Regions from separate parts of the Homo sapiens genome. Here region 2 is linked to region 1. A link means that fine-mapping ties the variant in region 1 to the expression of a gene that starts in the linked region. Tissue or cell type: whole blood. Region 1 holds a variant in brackets; the other region holds the start of a gene. All regions are shown on one strand. Distances are from middle to middle.

The links. PIP is the estimated chance that this variant, and not a neighbour inherited with it, causes the effect.
Region 2: it holds the start of LFNG, and the variant in region 1 is fine-mapped to the expression of LFNG in whole blood (INTERVAL, PIP 0.92).

What each region holds. Positions count from the first base shown.
Region 1 is chr7:2,351,473-2,362,292 of GRCh38, reverse strand. EIF3B (eukaryotic translation initiation factor 3 subunit B) reads right to left here and starts at 7,466. Exons shown (of 19, transcript NM_001037283.2): 1 at 6,873-7,466; 2 at 1,391-1,583. The coding sequence starts at 7,371. It also overlaps a transcript of SNX8 not described here. RefSeq lists silencers at 7,010-7,119, 7,170-7,259, 7,440-7,579 and enhancers at 8,380-8,449, 8,120-8,675. The variant C/T (reference allele first, on the strand shown) is at 7,718.
Region 2 is chr7:2,514,648-2,524,011 of GRCh38, reverse strand. It overlaps LFNG (LFNG O-fucosylpeptide 3-beta-N-acetylglucosaminyltransferase), which reads right to left and starts at 4,238. Exons shown (of 8, transcript NM_001040167.2): 1 at 3,719-4,238. The coding sequence starts at 4,150. RefSeq lists enhancers at 523-1,035, 1,902-1,961, 2,002-2,131 and silencers at 4,063-4,172, 4,183-4,712.

The sequences.
Region 1 (10,820 bases):
TTATCTCAATAAAGCTGTTTAAAAAAAAATCTTGGCTGGGCGCAATGGTTCACACCTGTAATCCCAGCACTTTGGGAGGCCAAGGTGGGCAGATCACTTGAGGTCAGGAGTTCGAGACCAGCCCGGCCAACATGGTGAAACCCTGTCTCTGCTAAATATACAAAAATTAGCCGGGCATGGTGGCACATGCTTATAATCCCAGCTACTCAGGAGGCTAAGGCAGGAGAATTGCTTGAGCCTGGGAGGCGGAGGTTGCAGTGAGCCAAGATCGTGCCACTGCACTCCAGCCTGGGTGACAGAGCAAGACTCTGTCTCAATAAATAAATAAATAAATAAATAAGCAAGCAAGCAAGCCAGGCGTGGTAGTGTGCGCCTGTAATCCCGGCTACTTGGGAGGGTGGGGCAGGAGAATTGCTTGAACCCGGGAGGCGGAGGTTGCAGTGAGCTGAGATCACACCACTGCACTCCAGCCTGGGCAAGAGTGAGACTGTCTCAAACAAACAAACAAACAAAAAAAACTTAAAAGTAGTCTAATATTGTGTATTACAGGCAAGATTAGAAAGAAGCTCAGAGAGGCCGGGCGCGGTGGCTCAGGCCTGTAATCCCAGCACTTTGGGAGGCCGAGGCGGGTGGATCACAAGGTCAGGAGATCGAGACCATTCTGGCTAACATGGTGAAACCCCGTCTCTACTAAAAATACAAAAAATTAGCCGGGCGTGGTAGCGGGCGCCAGTAGTCCCAGCTACTAGGGAGGCTGAGGCGGGAGAATAGTGTGAACCTGGGAGGCGGAGCTTTCAGTGAGCCGAGATTGCGACACTGCACTCCAGCCTGGGCGACAGAGCGAGACTCCGACTCAAAAAAAAGAAAGAAAGAAAGAACCTCAGAGAATGTTTCATTATAACACGAGTAACTGAGGGTCAAGAGGCCATCCTTCAACTGACTGCCCAACACAGAAAATGCAGCAGCATTACCTGTATTTGATAATTCTAGAAACTAAAACTATTCTAGTTAGTTTTTACTTTATTTATTTATTTTAGAGACAGAGTCTTGCTCTGTCACCCAGACTGGAGTACAGCTACGTTATCATAGCTCACTGCAGCCTCCAACTCCTGGCCTCAGGCTTCAAGAGTGTTGGGAGTTTATGCATAAGCCACCATGCTGGCCTATTCTAGATAATTTTAAAAACTTTAAAACCTTAACTTAAAAAAACAAACTTTATCATCTTCTCATTCACTGCTCTGGATAGCTTCCAGCTGAGGGCGGCCTGAAGAAGTGAACGGCCCACGTGCCTGGGCAAGGCAGGAGCTGTGTTAGTAAGGATCTCCTGCAACACTCCCTCATCATGACGTGCCAGACACAGATGATACTTCTCCAACAGGAGAACACTCACCCTTTTGTCTTCCCATCCTCTTCAGGATAAAAATCATTTGTGATTTTCCCAAACTTGGAAAAGATCTTGTGGATGACATTTTTGAGTTTCTCAAGTCGGTCGGGTCCCACCTGAGGGACATTGTCCACTACAATCACCGAATCGATTCCATCTGCTTCCTGGGGCCGATCTTTGAGTACATCTCCCAGTAATTCTGAACAAGAGAGATTTTTCAAATGATCATTTTTACCAAGAAAAACATTAATACATTAACTGAGCACACTAAACAAGTCTTCAAGAAGAGACAATGAATTGTCTAAATGCTTTCACTGTGAGCAAAAGAAATCCTAACCCTAGCTTGTTTCAGATTTTAAACATGACAGCTGGGGGGACTGGAACTCTCCTCTCTCCCTTTGATGGAAATGTAAACAGTCAAGACAGGTCAATTAAGTTCTGGTAATAACCAAAGACTACAGGAGAATAACAGTGAAAAGCTTTTAACAATGCACAATGCAAATGAAGAAGACCATCTCAAGAATATCCACTATTAGATCTTCCAGAGATGCCTAGATTTTGAAAGGTTTGTTGCAACATCTAGGCAGGCAGAATCCCATCCCAATGTCAATGAAAACTGACTTTTTACAGAAGATTTTAGCAAACAAGTAAATATTTAAATGCTCAATATATTCACAGCACATTTGTGCTGTGAATACAAATTACCAGAAATTATTCAAGGAGGAACCCTCTCTCGAGTGAACTGGGATGAAAGTAGTAACTCTTCTCCCACCTCCTGTTCCCAGTGATTTTCATGTTTTCAGGCCGTGAACTGGATGGCCATTCACAGGGGATGGGGAAAAAACCCAAAGAGGAAGCGCGTCTGGGGTGAGCTTCCCCACCTCTCTCCGCTGCAGAGCCCACCACCACGCACCTTCGTTCAGAACAATCTTTACCCAATATTCCTTAGGTTAAAAAGCTCTAAGGATAAACAACTGAACTGCAGGAGACAGGGATGTGACAGTGTCTTTCCTACTCACGTAACACTCAACACAACGCCTGACACCGGACGTGGGTGTCGCATCAAGCAGTTCTCCAGGGGCCACCAGCTGGGTGTCCTCTAACTTAATCCAATTCAGACACTATCTACCAGGAATTAGCATCAGATCCCACAGGCTGAAGGCTCAGCCCCAAAGACTGGCCCCCATTTCAGATGGCAGTCGCAAGTAGTGGGCTGTCACCTCCGGTTCTGACCGACAGGCTACAAAGCAGGGCTCCCACTATCCCTCGCTTCTTGGGTTCCATTAATTTACTGCAGCAGCTTACAGAATTCAGAGAGCTAGGTTTGCCAGCTTATTATAACGGACGTTACAGAGGATATAGACGAAAAGGCAGATGGAGGAGAAGCGCAGAGCCTCCCTGTGCTCTCCAGGCCACCACCCTGCAGAAGCCTCCACCTGTTCCGCTGCATGGAGCCCCTGAACCTGGTCCTTTTGGGTTTCTATGAAGATCTCATTATAGAGGCGTGATTAATGACATCACTGAGCACCGGTGATCAACTCAACTTTCAGCCCTCTTCCTTCTGGGTGGCAGGGGGAGACCTAAAAGGTCCCACCCTCTAATCACGTGGTTGGTTCCCTGGCAAGGAGCCCCAGCCATCAATCAAGTCCTCGTCTACAAAAAGACACTTACCACTTTGGAAATTACAAGGGTTTAGACGCTGAGTGCCAAGAGCCAGGCAGAGCCCAAATACACATTTCTTAATTATATCACAAAGAGCCTTTTTGAAAAACACTATCAGGGCAGAGACCGGCACTTAAACTAGGAGACTGGAGAATATACAAGCTCCTGAAACAACTTTTTTTTTTCTTTGTAAAGAGACAGGGTCTTGTTATGCTGCCCAGGCTAGCCTGGAACTCCTGGGCTCTAGCAATCCTCCTGCCTCAGCCTCCCAAGTAGCAGGGACTACAGGTGGGAGCTGCCACCCCCACTGAGATTAAATAACAGTATTTTTTTCTTAGTGGTAGGTGAAGCTGTTCTTGATGTGATGAAATGCCTCGCAGGGCTGCTGGAAAGCATCACGTGTCAGAATTTAGAACACGGCCAGGCTCAGTGGCTCACGCCTGTAATCCCAGCATTTTGGGAGGCCGAGGCAGGCAGATTACCTGAGGCCAGGAGTTCAAGACCAGCCTGGCCAACATGGTGAAACCTGTCCCTAATAAAAATACGAGAAAAATGATCCAAGCATGGTGGTGGGTGCCTGTAATTCCAGCTACTGGAGAGGCTGGGGCAGGAGAATCGCTTGAACCCAGGAGATGGAGGTTGCAGTGAGCCAAGATCATGCCACTGCACTCCAGCCTGGGAGACAGAGTGAGACTCCATCTCAAATAATAATAATAATGATAATTCCAACATACTAAATATGCAGATGTCCGAAAATATTCTTTACTGTATTTATTCTCAAAAGTTGGCTGGGCATGGTGGCTCACTCCAGCGACAGAGCAAGACTCCGTCTCAAAAAAACACTTTCGGAAATATTGAAAACTGACCCAGCATGGTGGCTCACGCCTGTAATCCCAGCATTTTTGGAAGCCAAGGAAGGCAAATCACATGAGGCCAGGAGTTCGAGACCAGCCTGGCCAACAAGGCAAAACCCCATCTGTATTAAAAATACAAAAAGTAGCCAGGCATGGTGGCACATGCTTATAATCCCAGCTACTTGGGAGGCTGAGGCAGGAAAATCGCTTGAAGCGGGGAGGCAGAGGCTGCGGTGAGCCATTGCACTCCAGTCTGAGCAAGAGAATGAGACTCTGTCTCAAAAAAAAAAAGGAAATATTGAAAATACTGCCTTAAAAAATAATCGCCGTTTTATTTTCAACGATGCTAAAATTGAGACGAACAAGAGAAAAAAAAAGGGAAAAAGGCAGTTGCCAGTCACTGCAGTGCCGGACACCCTGCTATGGAAACTAGTCAAATCCTAGGGTAACTTCTAAAGCACTTACCATACAATTAAATAGCCTGACAAGCCTGATCTGAATTTATAAGGCTGCAATAAAAAGCTCAACTTTTACACAAATTGGGTACTCCTTCCCACAAGCTCAAAGCGTCTAGTCTAGGAGAAACTGCCCACACGTAGGAAGGAAATAAATGAAGTAACTACACCATGAAGACACAACGCCTTGATCACTCTCAGCCCAAGCATCGGTTACACGTGGCTCATGGATTCCCAAGCGGTCTCCAGGAAAAACAGAAGAGAACAATTCTCAACACTAAATAGCAAATAGAAAGAGAAAGAATAGTTAATGAGCCAAAAAAGACATTTAGAGTTAAAATCCTGGATCAGCTGAAACATTAAACTGAAAGGATGATTACAGTTTGAGAAGCTAATCTGTACCAAAAAAGTAATAAAGCAAGACAGGGACTCCAGGCCACCTCTGGCCTGCTCCTTGGAAGACTTGGCCCTTCTGGAAAGAACTGATACAGTCACCTACGGTCTTGCACAATGACCCTGAAGGGCAGCTCTTCTCATAAAGCACAAAACCTGCGTTACCACAACCAGGAGGGCCATGACAAAGTCGGCTTCCTGAGCCTTAGTCCTCAGGACCAGATGCCTCACCTGTCACTCTGGCCAACACTGCACCTTCAGGGCCACGTGGGCCCGCTGAGGACCCACAGCCGTCACCCAGCCTGGCCAACCCTGTCGTCATATTAGCATCCTCTGACTCTTCCCAATTCCAGAAGTAATCTACGTATTAGAAATCTGTGAATTCGATGGGCTCAAATAATGCTTTTTAAAAAAGTAGCAGAATATCCAAGGGCTCAAAATAATCATTAAACCAAAAGTTTTGATTTTTAAACCATAATAACAATTGAAGCGTTAGAAAGAACACTGTTCTGAGCAGGAGAGTCTGGTGGGCCAAGCAGTATAGACCCACTGGGAATTCTCAGCAGCCTACTCCACCTTCAGGGACAAGTTTCCTCAGGACTGAGGGGCGTAGACTAGATGTTCCCAAAGTCTTTAGTTTGTGGTGTCCTTCCTGCTTTTCATGCTAAAATGTCTTTTATGAAAAAAAAAAGTGTAATATAGTAATGGTCACAGTAACTGACAGCGTTTTTATTTTTTAATTTTTCACTTTTTGAGACAGGGTCTCACTCTGTCGCCCAGGCAGTGGTGGGATCTAGGCTCACTGCAACCTCCACCTCCTGGGTTAAAGTGATTCTCGTGCCTCAGCCTCCCAAGTACCTGAGACTACAGGTGTGCACCAGCACACCTGGCTGACTTGTATTTCTGATAACCTTTTTTTCTTTTTCTTTTTTTTTTTTTTTTGAGACGGAGTCTTGCTCTGTCGCCCAGGATGGAGTGCAGTGGCAGGATCTCGGCTCACTGCAAGCTCCGCCTCCCAGGTTCACACCATTCTCCTGCCTCAGCCTCCAGAGTAGCTGGGAAATCCAGGTGCCCGCCACCACGCCCGGCTAATTTTTTTTTATTTTTAGTAGAGACGGGGTTTCACCGTGTTAGCCAGGATGGTGACCTCGTGATCCACCCGTCTCGGCCTCCCAAAGTGCTGGGATTACAGGCGTGAGCCACCCAGCCCGGCCCTCTGATAGCCTTTTAAAAATACGTTTAAATCATAAATTGGCAACTCCATGTTATTCCCGAAATTGTCCTGGTGTATCGCTGGCTACATCAGCAAGGGTATTTTTATTTTTCTCACTCTAGTATCAACTTAGCCAATCTGCAGAGGCTGATGTGTTCCCAACTTAAAGGCTTAAGAGAGCTAAAAAACAAAAGAAAAACAAATGAGACCAGCTCTCATCAGAAGTAGCTTCAGGAAAAAATCTCTGAGACAGGAAGCAAAAATATGCCTGTAAATCCAATCAAGGTTGAGATGAAGGCAAAGCTGGCTGTTATCGGCAATATTAAAACCTGGAAAAATAACTCTCTTTATAGATTTAGCGCAAGAGATAAAGAAAAATCAAACTGGAATTTCACAGGGTGCCTGTCCCACTAAGGAAGTCTCTGGAGATGGACAATTCTGAGGGGCAGGAGGACAAAATCACCGGCTCTGCCACAAGCTGTTCCTCCGATCCAGACCTTGGGAGGTCTGACTGGTCAGCTCTGGGGACACGTAGACCCGCAAACCTGCCACCGGGTCTTCGGTTTTTGCCGTACCCCCAGCTGCTACACTCACAGCACACCCAGCCATAACGGAGTACCCCATGTGCCCTCTCCCACCCTCTCAGATTTCTGGTTGTCATGCAAATGCCTGGCTCCCGAAGTGAGCTCCACCCTGTCCCCTTTTTCAGGAAAGAAAAGGGGAGGCGCTGGGCTCTCAGAACACTTCCAGGGCACTCGGGAACCCCTCCCTCGGTGGCTTCTCAGGAACACACGGACACCCTCGCTGGAACTTCTGCACGAACCGGTGGCACAGCCCGACGATATCTCCCACCTCGGGAACCCCAGCCACGCTCCCGCGCCGCTCGCCAGCCCCGCCCCGGGCGCCCTCACCTTCCTCGCTCACGTCGTCCACGAAGTCCTCGGGGTCGCTGAAGGAGGGCTCGTCCGCGTCGCCGTTCTCCAGCGCCCGGGGTTCGGCCTCGGCCGCTCTGCCCTCGTTTCCTCCCGCGTCCTCGGACACCGCCTGGGCCCGGCTGTCGGAGCGCTCGTCCCGAGCCTGCTCTCCTGGGGCCTCGCCCTGTGCCGGGACAGGGGGCTCAGCATGCGACCCGGGCAGCTCCTCGGCGGCCGGCGGCGAGGGCGACTCGGACGGGCCGGAGGCCGCCTCTGCCTCGGCCGCCGGCTCGGTCCTCACCTCGGACTCCGGCCCGGCCTCCGCGATCCCCACCTCCTCACTGGAGGCCTCGGTCCCCGCGGCCTCCGGAGCGCCGGGCCCCGCGGGCCGCAGCAGCCCCTCGGCTGGCGGCGGCTCGGCGGCCGGCTGCTGCTGGCCGGGCTCGGCGCGCTCCTCGGCCGCCTCGGGCACCGCCACGTTCTCCGCGTCCTGCATGGGCCCAACGCTGCCTACTCGCAGGGCTCCGCGGCCGCCGCGCTTCCGACTCTCCCAGGCCGCACCGCGCGCCGCGACGGCTACAGCCCAGCCATGTGCGTGCGACGGGGAGGCCGCACCAAGGCCGCGGGGCGGGGGGCGCACCCACGCCCTGGGGCCTCACGAACGACCCTGAGAGGACTCGCATCCACAAGACCGCGCCCGAAAATCATCAAACTGATATATTTGTGACAAGAAAGTGCTTAATTCCATTCAGCAAGGTTGTTTCTGTGCATCAGTAAACTCATGGGAGCATTGACCACCCCATGTGTGGCAGCAGATGGTTCCGTCCAACATGGCGTCCTCC[C/T]CCTTTCCTTTCCCGTCGGACGCTGCGGGGCGGGACTGAACTATTTGTGGAGCTGAAGGCGGGGACAAGAAATGATTTTAGTACCCGGAATGCTAGGAAAATGTCCTCTAACTCAACAGTTAATACCCTGGAAGAGTGGAGACTCAACAGGCGATTGCTCAGGGCGTCTGAGCCTTTCGCTAGGGAAACCGTTTAGTTTACGTTACTAAAGTCCCCCCTGTCCGTGTCTGTCACTTGGACTCGCCTACTGACTGAGCAAAAGGACAGACTACTTCAAAATAGAAAAGGAATTCGGGGCGAGCCAGAGAGGGCCCACACGACTAGAAGGACGACTGCCTGGCGCGATACAAAAATGTATGGAAGTTTCTTTAATCGCTTACCCCCAGTCCTTCCCTAGCGGCCGTCACTGCCTGTTTCCCCCCATTCGGGCTTTCACAGTGGTTCAGTCCATCCGAGGCCGCCGCCTTCAGCGCGGGACAGCGCGGGTCACGTGGGGGCGGGGGCGGGTCCTCGCCGCGTGGAGCTCGAGGCTGACTCCGGAGGGACCGGAGCGGTTCGCTCTGCGCGGGTGCTCACGGGACGGGCATTGGGTGCATGTGGCTTCTATCTTGTTTTTTGCCGGAGTGGAGGACAACCACTGGTTGGGGGATGTCTTAATCATCCTAGAAAACAACCCAGTGGATCACGCCTGTTATCCCAGCACTTTGGGAGGCTGAGGTGGGAAGATCGCTTGAGCTTAGGAGTTGGAGACCAGCCTTGCCAACATAGCACCACCACCCCCCGCACGCCAGCCCTCATCTCTACGAAAATTAAATAAATAAATAAAACAGGTGGTACCCAGAGGCTGGGGTGGAGAGTGGGGAGTGTTTATCGGGGACGGACCTTCAATTTGGGAGGATGAGAACGTTTTGGAGATGACGGTGGTGATGGTACAACATGGTGAATGTACTTGATGCCACTGAACTGTATACTAAACTTCATATTAAAATGGCTAGGCCCTGCGCGGTGGCTCACACCTCTCTTCCCAGTACTTTGGGAGGCCAAGACAGGAGGATCACTTGAGCCCAAGAGTTCAAGACCAGTCAGGGCAACATAGCGAGACCCTGTCTTCGAAAAAATAAAATAAAATGCCAAAAAGGTAAATTTTATGTATATTTCATCCTATAGTTTTTTTGTTTTGTTTGTTTTCAGAGATAGGGTCTCGCTCTGTTGCCCAGGCTAGAGTGCGGTGGCATAATCACAGCGCCGCTGCAATCGGGACCTTCCAGCCTCAAGAGAATCCTCCCACCTCAGCCTCCCAAAGTGCCAGGATTACAAGCGTGAACCACCGCGCAGGGCCTAGCCATTTTAATATGCAATTTAGTGTACAGTTCAGTGACATTAAGTACATTGCCAAGTACTTGGGACTGAAGGTATGTGCCACCGTGCCCAGCTAATTTCTTTATTTGTAGATAGCATCTCACTGTGTTGCCCAGGCTGGTCTCAAACTCCTGGCCTCAAGCAGTCTTCCTCCCTCAGCTTCCCAAAGTGCCGGGACTATAGGCATGAGCCACCACACCCATCCCATCCTAACGGTGTTTAAAAGAGCGAAAAAGAAGCAGAGTCTTCCCATGCCTAGTACCAGGTTTGACTACTCCTCATCATGCTGTCAGTGGTGTATCTTTGGGCAGGTCACTTAATGCCTCCACCTCAGTTTCCGCATCTGTACAATAAGGGATGACAATTTTTTTTTTTTTTATTTAGACGGAGTGTTGCTCTGTCGCCTAGGCTGGAGTGCAGTGGCACGATCTCGGCTCACTGCAAGCTCCACCTCCCGGGTTCACGCCATTCTCTTGCCTCAGCCTCCCAAGTAGCTGGGAATACAGGTGCCCGCCACCACGCCTGGCTGATTTTTTTTGTATTTTTTTAGTAGAGACGAGGTTTCACCGTATTAGCCAGGATGGTCTCGATCTCCTGACCTTGTGATCCGCCTGCCTCGGCCTCCCAAAGTGCTGGGATTACAGGTGTGAGCCAATACGCCTGGGAGTATGTTTTTTCTACATATGCATGCTTACAATAGGGCACAGTAAGAGATTAACAGCAATAACTAATAGAACAATTATAACAATATATTGTCATAAAAGTTATGTGGATGTGGTGTCTGGTGGTGTGTCTGTGTCTCTCTCTGTCAAATTTTCTTCATTATGTAATATTTTCCAACCTAATTGACCATAAGTAACTGAAACAGTGCAATGTGAAACTGGGGGTCGGGGGGGCTACTGTGTTTGGAAGCAGTCTTCCCAGATGTAATCAAGATGAAGTCAAAGTGGACGAGAGTGGACCCTAAATCAGTGATTGATGTCCTTATTAGAAGAAGGAAATTATGGCCGGGCATGGTGGCTCACACCTGTAATCCCAGCACTTTGGGAGGCCAAGGTGGGCGGATGCATTACATGAGGTCAGGAGTTCGAGACCAGCCTGAACAACATGGTGAAACCCCATCTCTACTAAAAATACAAAAATTAGCCAGGCATGGTGGCACATGCCTGTAATCTCAGCTACTCAGGAGGCTGAGGCGGGAGAATCACTTGTACCCTGGAGGCAGAGGGCGTAGTGAGCGGAGATTGCACCATTTCACTCCAGCCTGGGCAACGAGCAAAAATCCATCTCAAAAAAAAAAAAAAAAAAAAACCAACAACAACAACAAAAACTTACTCGATTTTTTGTTTTTATTATTATCTTTATTTATTTATTTATTTATTTTTTGAGATGGAGTCTCACTCTGTCGCCCAGGCTGGAGTGCAGTGGTGCTATCTCGGATCACTGCAAGCTCCACCTCCCGGGTTCAAGCAATTCTCCTGCCTCAGCCTCCCGAGTAGCTGGGACTACAGGCGCCTGCCACCACACCCGGCTAATTTTTTGTATTTTTAGTAGAGACGGGTTTCATCCTGTTAGTCAGGATGGTCTCACTCTCCTGACCTCGTGATCCGCCCGCCTTGGCCTCCCGAAGTGCTGGGATTACAGGCGTGAGCCACTGCGCCTGGCCTATTATTATTTTTTAACAGGGTCTCACTCTGTCACCCAGGCTGGAGTACAGTGGTGCCGTCGCACCTCACTGTAGCTT
Region 2 (9,364 bases), 160 kb before region 1:
TTAACCGGGCCAGGCTGGGCATGAGGTCCCGCGCGTAGGGTGCAGCCACCAGCACTGCAGCCACCCCACAGCTGCCCTTTGGGCCAGCACCCCTGTCCTGGGTGACCTGCAGGACAAGCTACCCACTCTGAGCCAAAGCAGCCCTGAAGTTCTGCAAAGTTGCCAACGGTCAGCAGGGTTGTGGCAGGAAACCTCAGGTGTCCCCAGCCCCCAGGTCAGGGGCCCCCAGTACCCATGCAGCCCAGCACCCCTCCCACTGCTCAGGCAAGGAAACCCAGGCTTGCCCAAGGCCACAGCCCACCTGTGCCAGCACGCGGCCGCCCCCTGCCAGGAGCGCTCTGCGGAAGAGGAGGGGGCCGCCAGGGCGGGGCCAGGAGTCGCCGGCGCCCGCCTGGGCCTGCCGGCACACGGGGAGGAATGTTCCTTCCTCTGCCCGGCCCGCCCAGCGCGTGCCGCCCGGCGCACCCTGGCATGGCTGAGTGCAAAACCCAGGGTGTACGGGCAATGCTCTGACCAAGGGACAACCCCCTGATGCCCACCCAGCCTCAGTTTCCTTCCCTGTACACACAGGTCCCGCAGAGGCCCTGGAACACCTTGGTAGTCTCAGATCCTTATCCAGCCTGACCCAGCCCTGGGCACATGCTCACTAGGGTGAGGCCCAGAGCTAAGGGGGTGGCAGGCTGGGTCTCCGCCTCTCCATGCATGCACCCCTCCTGCAGCACCCATAGACACCCCAGGGCAGCCACACGCACAGACTCGCACCCAGCCCCTTGGCCTCCCCAGAATCTCAGCCCAGGAATGCCGTGGGAGGCGGAGGGCCAGCCCCTGCAGACGCTCCACTGCGCCGCTGGGTTAAAAGGAAAATGCTTTCTTAATGAGATCAAGGGAGGCCTGTTCTCCCGAGATTTGGTGGTGCCCTAAAAACCCAGCCCAAGGCTACGGAGATTAAAGTCACCTTTGTTCAGCTCAGGGAGCAGGGAGGCCTCTAGAACAGCATCTGAGAAGGCGGGGCTATGGGGTGCGGGGGTGCCGGTCGAACTGTCTCCCGACACCTGAGCCACCAGGAGGGGAGGAAAAAGGCGCTGCTGGGCTATAGGCCTCACCTGCCGCTCAGAGCCTCAGTCTCGTCTTCAGTAAAATGGGCATAACAGAGCTCCCCTGGGCAGAGAACAAAGTGCAAAGACAGATTCTCTCCCTTCCTCTCCCTGACAGCCCTCGGAGGTGGGTGCCATTACCAGCTGAGGCCCAAGTGGGGAAACTGAGGCCCAGAGAGGTGCAGGCACCAGCCTGAGGTCATACCCTGGGGCCGAGGCGGTGCTAGACCAGCCCAGTCCCTGCCTTCTAGGGACCCAGACCCCCCAGTGCCACCTAACTTTCCAGACGAAGACGGGGCTGCAGGAGGAAGAGCCGGGTGGATGAGGGTGGACGGGGGCGGGGGCCGGGGGACACCCACAGGAAGCAGCATTGTTCCTGGAGCCGCGATTCAAAGAAACACAGGATGCCAAGTTCTCCCCAGCAATTGTGGCCGCTGTGGTGGCAGCGCGGCAGCCTGGCTGCTCCTGGGAGGGGCGGGGAACCTCTGGGCCAAAGGCCAGGCTCTTCATCCTGGACTCCAGGCCCATCTCAGCGCGGCCCCTGCTGACCAACCGACCCTCCCCCCAGCCACCACTCCAGTTGCTAGAAGTTTCCTGCACAACCCCCATGCTGTGGTCATCACCATGCCCGGATGGAGTGCCCTTTCTGGGCACTTTTTTACTCTTAGTCTAGCTCAAATGGCGCCTCCTCCAGGAAGTCTTCCCTCCTCCCTCCCTTCCCCCAGCATGTGGGTCAGATGCCCACTGTTGCCTCACACAGCCTCTCGGGGTTTTCCCCCCGCACAGCCCTGACATCTTTCTATCTCCCCCATCAGACCATGTCTGAGTCATTCCGTGCAGGGCTGGGAGAGGGGGGCCCTCTTCTGTGGGTTTCCAGGACCCCTGCCCATCACCCACCACAAGGGGGTCTTTGCTTGCTGTGTGCTGGTGAACTGATGCTGAGGGCAGATTCAACCTGTCCCCTGGTGGGGTGACCCTCCAGTAGGGACCTCAGGGCTCAAGGGAGTGATGGCCCCCACCTCGACCCTGAGTGCCCGCCGGGTTCACCCCATGCCTGCAGGCTTTGCCAGTCTCTTACAACGTGCTCCTGGAAGGACCATGTTCCCCCATTTCAGAGATCAGAGTGAGGGTCTGAGAGGCCCCAGGTCTTGCTCAGGATCACACAGCCCAGCCCTCTGACCACATCCCCTCTGTTGGAGAAAGGCCCCAAATTCCAAGATGAGAGGTGCTCAGAGCTGGTGGTAGCCCAGAGTGGGGCTGAAGGATGCCCAAGATCACATAGCAGTAAGGCTTGAGTGCTGGGGGTGGGGGGGCCAGGCTCAGGGATGGTGCCCCAAAAGGACTGTCAGTAAGAGATGCTGGGGGGGCCCGCTGGTCCCCTCATCGCCAGGCAACCTGAGTGGCCAGCACGCCAGCAGCGGTTCCCACGGAGCGCGTAGCTGCACACAAGGGGCCCGACGCCTTTCTCGCTGGAGAAAGGGGCTTTGTTACCTTGCCCAAGGGGCCGGCGTGAGAGCCGCCCGGCGCTGGGAATCCTAACGGCCCGGCCGCCAAACAAAACCCACGGCCCCCGCCGCCCCCTCCCGCCAGCCCGCTGAGCCCCTGGGAATGGGACGCTGTGTTCCCAGGAGGCTGCCATGGGGTTCCCAGGGCCCCTTCCCCACGCCAGGACCAGGGAGGACCCTGCCCCTCCCCGTCGCCCTCATGACCTCACCAAGCCCTGCTCCCACCCACCCACAGTGCCCCAAAACAGGACAGCGCCAGGTCAGAAGGCCCTGGGTCTCCGGGGTTTGAGCAGGGAGGAAGGCGTGCAGGGTCTTCCCTGAGCCCCCACCCTCACAGCAAATGCCTCTGCATCTCCCAGCCCAGAGACACCCCCCCAGTCCCCGACTGCAAGCCCCACACACTGTCCCCATCCCGCCCCAGCCCAACCGTCCTGCTGTGGCCTCGAGGGAAATGTTCAAAGTGGGGTGTGTCTTAATTATGTGTGTGTAAGAAGCTGATGCCCAACTGAAGTGGGCTGTGCCCAAGGTTGCAGGCCTCAGAGACTACTGCACTGTGCGGGGAGGGTCCCCACACAGACCCCAAAACCTGGAGTTCTTTGAGATGTACTCCCCAGGACCCACCAACCAGCAATGACTTCCCTCCCTCCCCGTACCTTAACACTGTGATGAGGAAAGGGCCCAGAGGTCAGAACCCCTCACTTCTCTAAAGGAAGAGCCTTTCTCCCCAGGAAGGGGTCTGAGCTGAGGGTGGGTCCGAACAGAATTTGCTTGTGGAAGTTTGAGGACATAATGCCCTATGAATGCGCTCCAATGTTTACGGGGTGAGAAGTATCACAGGGCACCAACCCCAAGCACTGGAGACTGGTGTAGGGTCCTGCAGCCATCCAGGACTCTGGAGCTGGACAGGAGGCGGGGCCCCGGGGACAGTAACACAACTGTAACGGGAGAGTGGCCCCAGCAGGCAAACTGGGTGCACCGGGGTGCACTGGCGTCGCCCACAGATGGCCCTAGTGGCTGGATGGGGATGCAGCCTGACTCCCATGGGACACTGCCACCAGCTGGACCAGATGGTGGGTCCCCGCCCCGCTCGCCCGCCAGTCCAGGCCGCGGGGGGCTCACCATCTCCTTGTGGCGCGAGATCCAGGTCTCCAGCAGCAGGTCGAGGCGCGCGCGGTGGAACTTTTTGGTGGTCTTGACAGCGATGAAGACGTCTCGGGGCGCGAGCGGCTCGGCCAGGGGGCGCGGGTGGCCGTCGGCGGGGCGGGGGGCAGCCCCGGGCGGCGGGCCCGCATCTCTGCGCGCGCGGGTGAGCAGGCTGAAGTACTCGGACAGACTGTGCACGTCGCGGACCAGCGCCCCGGGCGCCGCCGCCGCCGCCCCCAGCCCGGGCGCCGGGGCAGCCCCCGCGGGGCCCGCCAGGCTGCGCAGCGCGCGCCGGCCGCGCTCGGCGGGCAGTGGAGGCGGCGGCGGGTCGGCGGTGAGCACCAGCAGGCAGGCGAGCAGCGCGCCCGCCAGCGCCAGCAGCAGGCGCCGGCCGCAGCGCTTGAGCATGGTGGGGTGGCGGCCGCGCGGCGCGCCCTTCCCCGTGCGCCTGCCTTGCACCGACCCGAAGCCCGTCGCTCCGGCGGCGCAGTCCAGCAGCGCAGCACCAGTGTCCCGCGCTCTTAAACCTCCCCGCCCCGGTCCCGCCCCCGTGCGCTCATTGGCTCCCGGGCTCGGGGGCGGGGCCTCGCGCCGGTCGCCGCTCCACGCCCGCAGACCCACGTGGGGCCGCGGCTGGGGGCTGGGAACTGCCCAGAGGGCGCAGCGGCCCCGCCCCCGGCGCGCACGTGCACGCCCCGCACCCCCCCCGCCCCGGGTAGCCCCTGCGGGCCGCCGAGGGGCTTGGGGACGGGCCCGGCCCGCGCCGGTGTCCCTGAAGAGGAAACCCAGCCTGGCCAGCGCCGTCCGGGGATGCACCGGGCGTCCCGGCACGGGAGGGGCGCGCCCTCGGCGCAGCGGGCAGGGTGCTGAGACCCGGGCTCTGGGCTCCGACGCACCGCGGGGGACATCCTACTTCCTCGCTGTGCGCTTCCCCTCCTGAGCACGGCTTCCTCCCCTTGGGACGCGGCAGGCCTTGCAAACTGGGGTGGCGCCTGGGTCTTCCCGAGCGCTCGGTTCAGGGGAGCCGTTATTTGTACAGAGCAAGAGCTTGGCCACCTGTGCCGCAGGTGGGGACACGAGGTTCTAACGAGAAAGCACCAGAACCAAATTCCACTCCTTCCTCCCTGGCTGATTTCCTCGATCCTGGCCCTCCGTCGGGAGGGTTGGCTCCCCGAAATCCTCAGGCGCCCCATGGCGAGGAGAAACGAAGGCCGCCACTTCCCTCGCCGGATGAAAGGCCGCCTTCTGTCCCATTTGGTCTCCTTGCGCTCGGGCCAGATGCGGCCCAGCTGTGCGCCCTCCCCACCCCGCCTCCCCGGCACACGGCCCCCATCCCCGGCCCTTCCCACGGGCCCGGGCCCGCCCCTCGCACGAGCGGGGGCGGCAGGAATGCGCGCCGGCAGCCGAGGGTGAGGGGCGAGGGGCCCGGAAGTGGCCAAGGGTCGCCTGAGCAGGGTGTGAGCCCCCTGCCCGCCACGTCCTCCGGAAGCGTGGACGGAGGCGGCTCTGCCCGTGGCTGCGCTGTCTTCCCGTGCCCTCCTAAGCAGGGTCTCTGCGACCACCACGACCACCACCGCCACCACCGTGGCTAAACTGCCCCCCTCGGAGTTATGTTCACGCCTGAGATGGCATTTTAAATTCTTTAAGTGCCCTTGGAGCCCCTCTCCTTACCTCTACCTGAATGTCAGCCGCAAGACAGCAGCGACCTGGTGTCATTCAGACCTGGAACAGGTTTTGGGACATAGTAGGTGCTCTGAAAAAATTCACTGGATAAATGTCTGGCCCCACTGTCAGACCCTCTCCCCCCGCTAAGGACGCTGTAGCCCATTTGCTCTTAGGGCCCCAGGGGCCCCACCCCTAGCCCCTGTACCCGCTGGGTGGTGTGGGGGATGGGGGTTCCCAGGCCTCTTCCTGGCCCCAGGTAATTAGCAGTCACCACCTCCGAAAGCAGATGCCCCAGCAGATGGTGCTGGCTGTGCCCAAGTGACAAGTCTCCCATGGCGTCACCTCCTGCCATAAACCCCTTCCGATCAGCCAGAGCCTAGCCCTGGAGCCTCCATGCAGCTGGAGAGGCTTGAGGGTGAGCCGGGGAGAAAAGGACCCAGTGACTGGGTTGGCTGCCCCCACAAAGTCAGCTGAGTCCCAGCCCAGCCCCAGCCTCCGGACTGAGGGGTGTCCATGACCCCACGTGCTTCAGTCACACCGCTGACTTCAGGCTCTCCCATATCTGAATTGTTTCAGAGACGGAGCCTCATCCATCCCCATCATCTCTTCCCTGAATCACTTGGGCAGCCTCCACCCCCATCCCACCCACTCCTATCCTACCTGCTTTACTTATTCTCCACGCAGCAGCTGGACAACTAGGATCATAGCCACTCACACACCCACACAAAGAGCAAAACCCTCCATAGCTCTCCACTGGCTGAGTTAAAGTCCCGCCTGATATTCACGCACCTCGTGACTTAGTCCCAGCCCCGTTTCTTGAGGCCCAATCCCTCCTCAATCCCCTGCAGCCAAGCATGGCCAAGCCCCCAAATATGTGCACGGGTTGTGCTCTGTACCTGGACTTTACATCAGTGGCACCGATGGTGGGTGCCATGCCACCCTGCACCCCACCTGACAAGATGCTGTGAGTCCATCTCCCCACAGTTCCCAGGCCAGGGGATGGGGCTTCCTGCCCTGAGCCGCCCCACCCCCGCAACTCCTGCTCCCCAGCTACCCCTGACTGCGGTGCCTTTGACCCAGCAGGTCGTGGGAGCAATGTGCCCATTGTAGAGAAAGCAAGGGGGATATTGTACCAAGGGAGTGACCATACAGAGGTGGATGGCCCAGCCTGGCAGGGGCACATGCATAGAACTGGGTAGGGGGGGTTCCCGCGTCTCTCTGTAGCCAGGAATGGGAGGAGTGGGGGACCTGATGCTGCTGCCTGTCTGGAAGCAGCGGGAGGAAGCTTTACAGCATTCTTGTGGGGGCCGCAGGCTTTGGCAAGAGTGAATCAATTTCTTTGCTGTCAGGAGAATGGAATTTCGTGGTGACTTCTTGAGGTCTGAAAACTGTTGAGGGGGTGGCCCGCCTAGCCACCCCCGCCCGCTTCCCCAGGCTCAGCTTCAGCCTGAAACACTTCCCTCCCCATCCAGACCCCAGGTCTCCCTCTAGGGGCCCACTGGGCCACACAGCCCTGGTAGGGAAGTGGGCTGTGGGATGGTGCTCAGCCCTGGACAGGACAAAGGGGAGCTGGGGAGGGGGCTAGAGAGGGCTGACCGAGTTGCCAGTGAAGCCTCTTGGGGCCGTAGGGTCCTGGGGAAGAGGGGCTGGGGATAGAGGCTGCCCCAGGGCCCAGCCTGCCTTCCGAACCCAGAGGGGCCACTTCTCGGCTTTAAGACCTTGAACCGGTGGTGTTACTCCCTGAGCCTCAGTTTCCTCACTTGTAACACAAGGATGACATACCATCCAGACCAGGCAGGCCAGCTCTGGCCCTGGCGCATGGCTTCATGGGCTTCTTGGACCCTAGTCTTCCCCTCTGCAGGGCCCCTCCACCAGTCCCAGTTTGGGGCTCCCAGGCAGCTGGGTGTGCGAATGGCCCGAGAGACCTGCCTGCTGAGGTCAGGTGGAAAGCAGGCCCACGGAGCCAGGACCCACATGACCAGGGGCCCTACCCTCCTCCTCTAGCCGCCATCAGGCTGAGACAGTGTTCTGTCCCCATCTGAGTCCAGGCCTCCTCTAACTGCCAGGGCTCAGCCCGGGGGTTCTCCTGCTGGAGTCAGTGCCACCAGGTCCCCAAAGCCATGGGCTGGGTCTGCCCTTGACACTCAGGCCTAGAGGGGAAGGGCTCGGGGCTGGCTTTGAGGTGGCCATCTGCCTTCCCTCCCCCGGGCTGTTCCTTGGGGCTGCTCTGGCCTGCCTTCCTGCAGGGTCCTGGGAAGATCTGTGGAGACATAATGGGTGACCCATTAACTCGGCAGGAAGCCATCCGAGGCGCCTGTCCACTCATCGGCTGATGGAGAGCGGCCCCACTCAGTGTCTTGGGAACCAGCTTCCTCTGGGCCAGTAGCAGTGCCCAGAGATGGAAACTCCTGGACAGGACTCAGCATGGTGGTGGCTGTGGCTCGGGCAAGCCTGCACCTCCCTGTCCTCTCCTGACACAGACGCAGGAATGCCAACCCCCAGGCTGGGGCCAGGCATCAGAACTGGCAGTGTTTGAAGCCCCCAGATGCCAGGGGGCCCATGGATTTCCAAAAGGCAGGCGTGGCCTAGTGAGTGTCCCGACCCAGGAGCTTCTGTGAGCAGCCCTTGGTGGCAGGAAGGAGGGTGATGGGAAGGTTGGCTGGGCTCAGCACAGCCGGCTCCCAAGGCCGGGGGAGGGATACCGCAGGGTGGCACAGCTGATTCCCATTACTGCAGCTGGAGTGGGCACTGCCCTGAGACTAGCAGACTCCAGCTGTGAGTAGCACCCCCACCATTCCCAACCCTGCCTGCCTGCTATGCCCAGACCCCTCGCCCACTGTGTGGTCTTGGGCCAGTGCCCTTCTGTGGGTCTTGGGACGTTACTTGACTCTGTAATAGGGATATGGCTGGTGCCTCACCCGCCCTGCCCACCAGGCTGCCTTGGGGTTGGTGCTCTGCAGCCGTGAAGCCACGGCCTTTCCAACAGTGGCCTGGCCCTTTTGCCTGCACTCTGGGGTCAGGCATGGACAGAGAGGCCAGGCCCATTAGAGTTCAGCCGACTTGGCCTCAGTGGCTGAGCAAGGCTTCGGGGGGCATCCTGGCCTGAGGCACCCTGCAGGGCCCACCAAGGGCTACCCCTCCTAGAACGTCCTCCCCATCCCCCTCTGCTACCCCCATCCTGGTGCTGATCACATGAGGTTGTAGCTGCTCCTTTACGTCTGTGTCCCTGGGGGAAGAGGCTGCCTCTTGCTGCTTGTCAGGGCCTGGCACAAAGTAGGTGCTCAGTAAACACTGGTTGAACTGATGGTGGGGGGAATGGACATACAGATGGATGGACAGATGGACAGATAGATTGGCAGATGGATGGATGGTTGGATGGATGAATGAATGGATAGACAGATGGACAGATGGAGGGACGGATGGATGGATGGATGAATAGATGGATGGATGGAAAGGTGGATGGATGAACAGTTAGATGGAGGGGCAGATGGATGGGCAGACAGACAGACGGATGGATGGATGGATGGACGGATGGACAGATGGATGGATGGATGGACAGATGGATGGATGGATGGATGGATGGATAGACAGATGAATGGACAGATGGATGGACGGACGGATGGATGGATGGACAGATGGATAGATGGATGAATGGATAGATACATGGATGGATGGAAGGATAGGTGAATGGACAGACAGACGAATGGATGGATGGATGCATGGATGAATGGATGGATGGATAGACAGATGAATGGATGGATGGATGGATGGATGGATGGATGGATGGACAGACAGACCGACAGATGAATGGATGGATGGATGCATGGATGAATGGACAGATGGATGCATGGATGGATGAATGGATGGATGGATGGACAGGTGAATGGACAGATGGATAGATGGATGTATGGATGGCTGGAAGGATAGGTGAAAGGACAGACAGACTAACGGATGGAT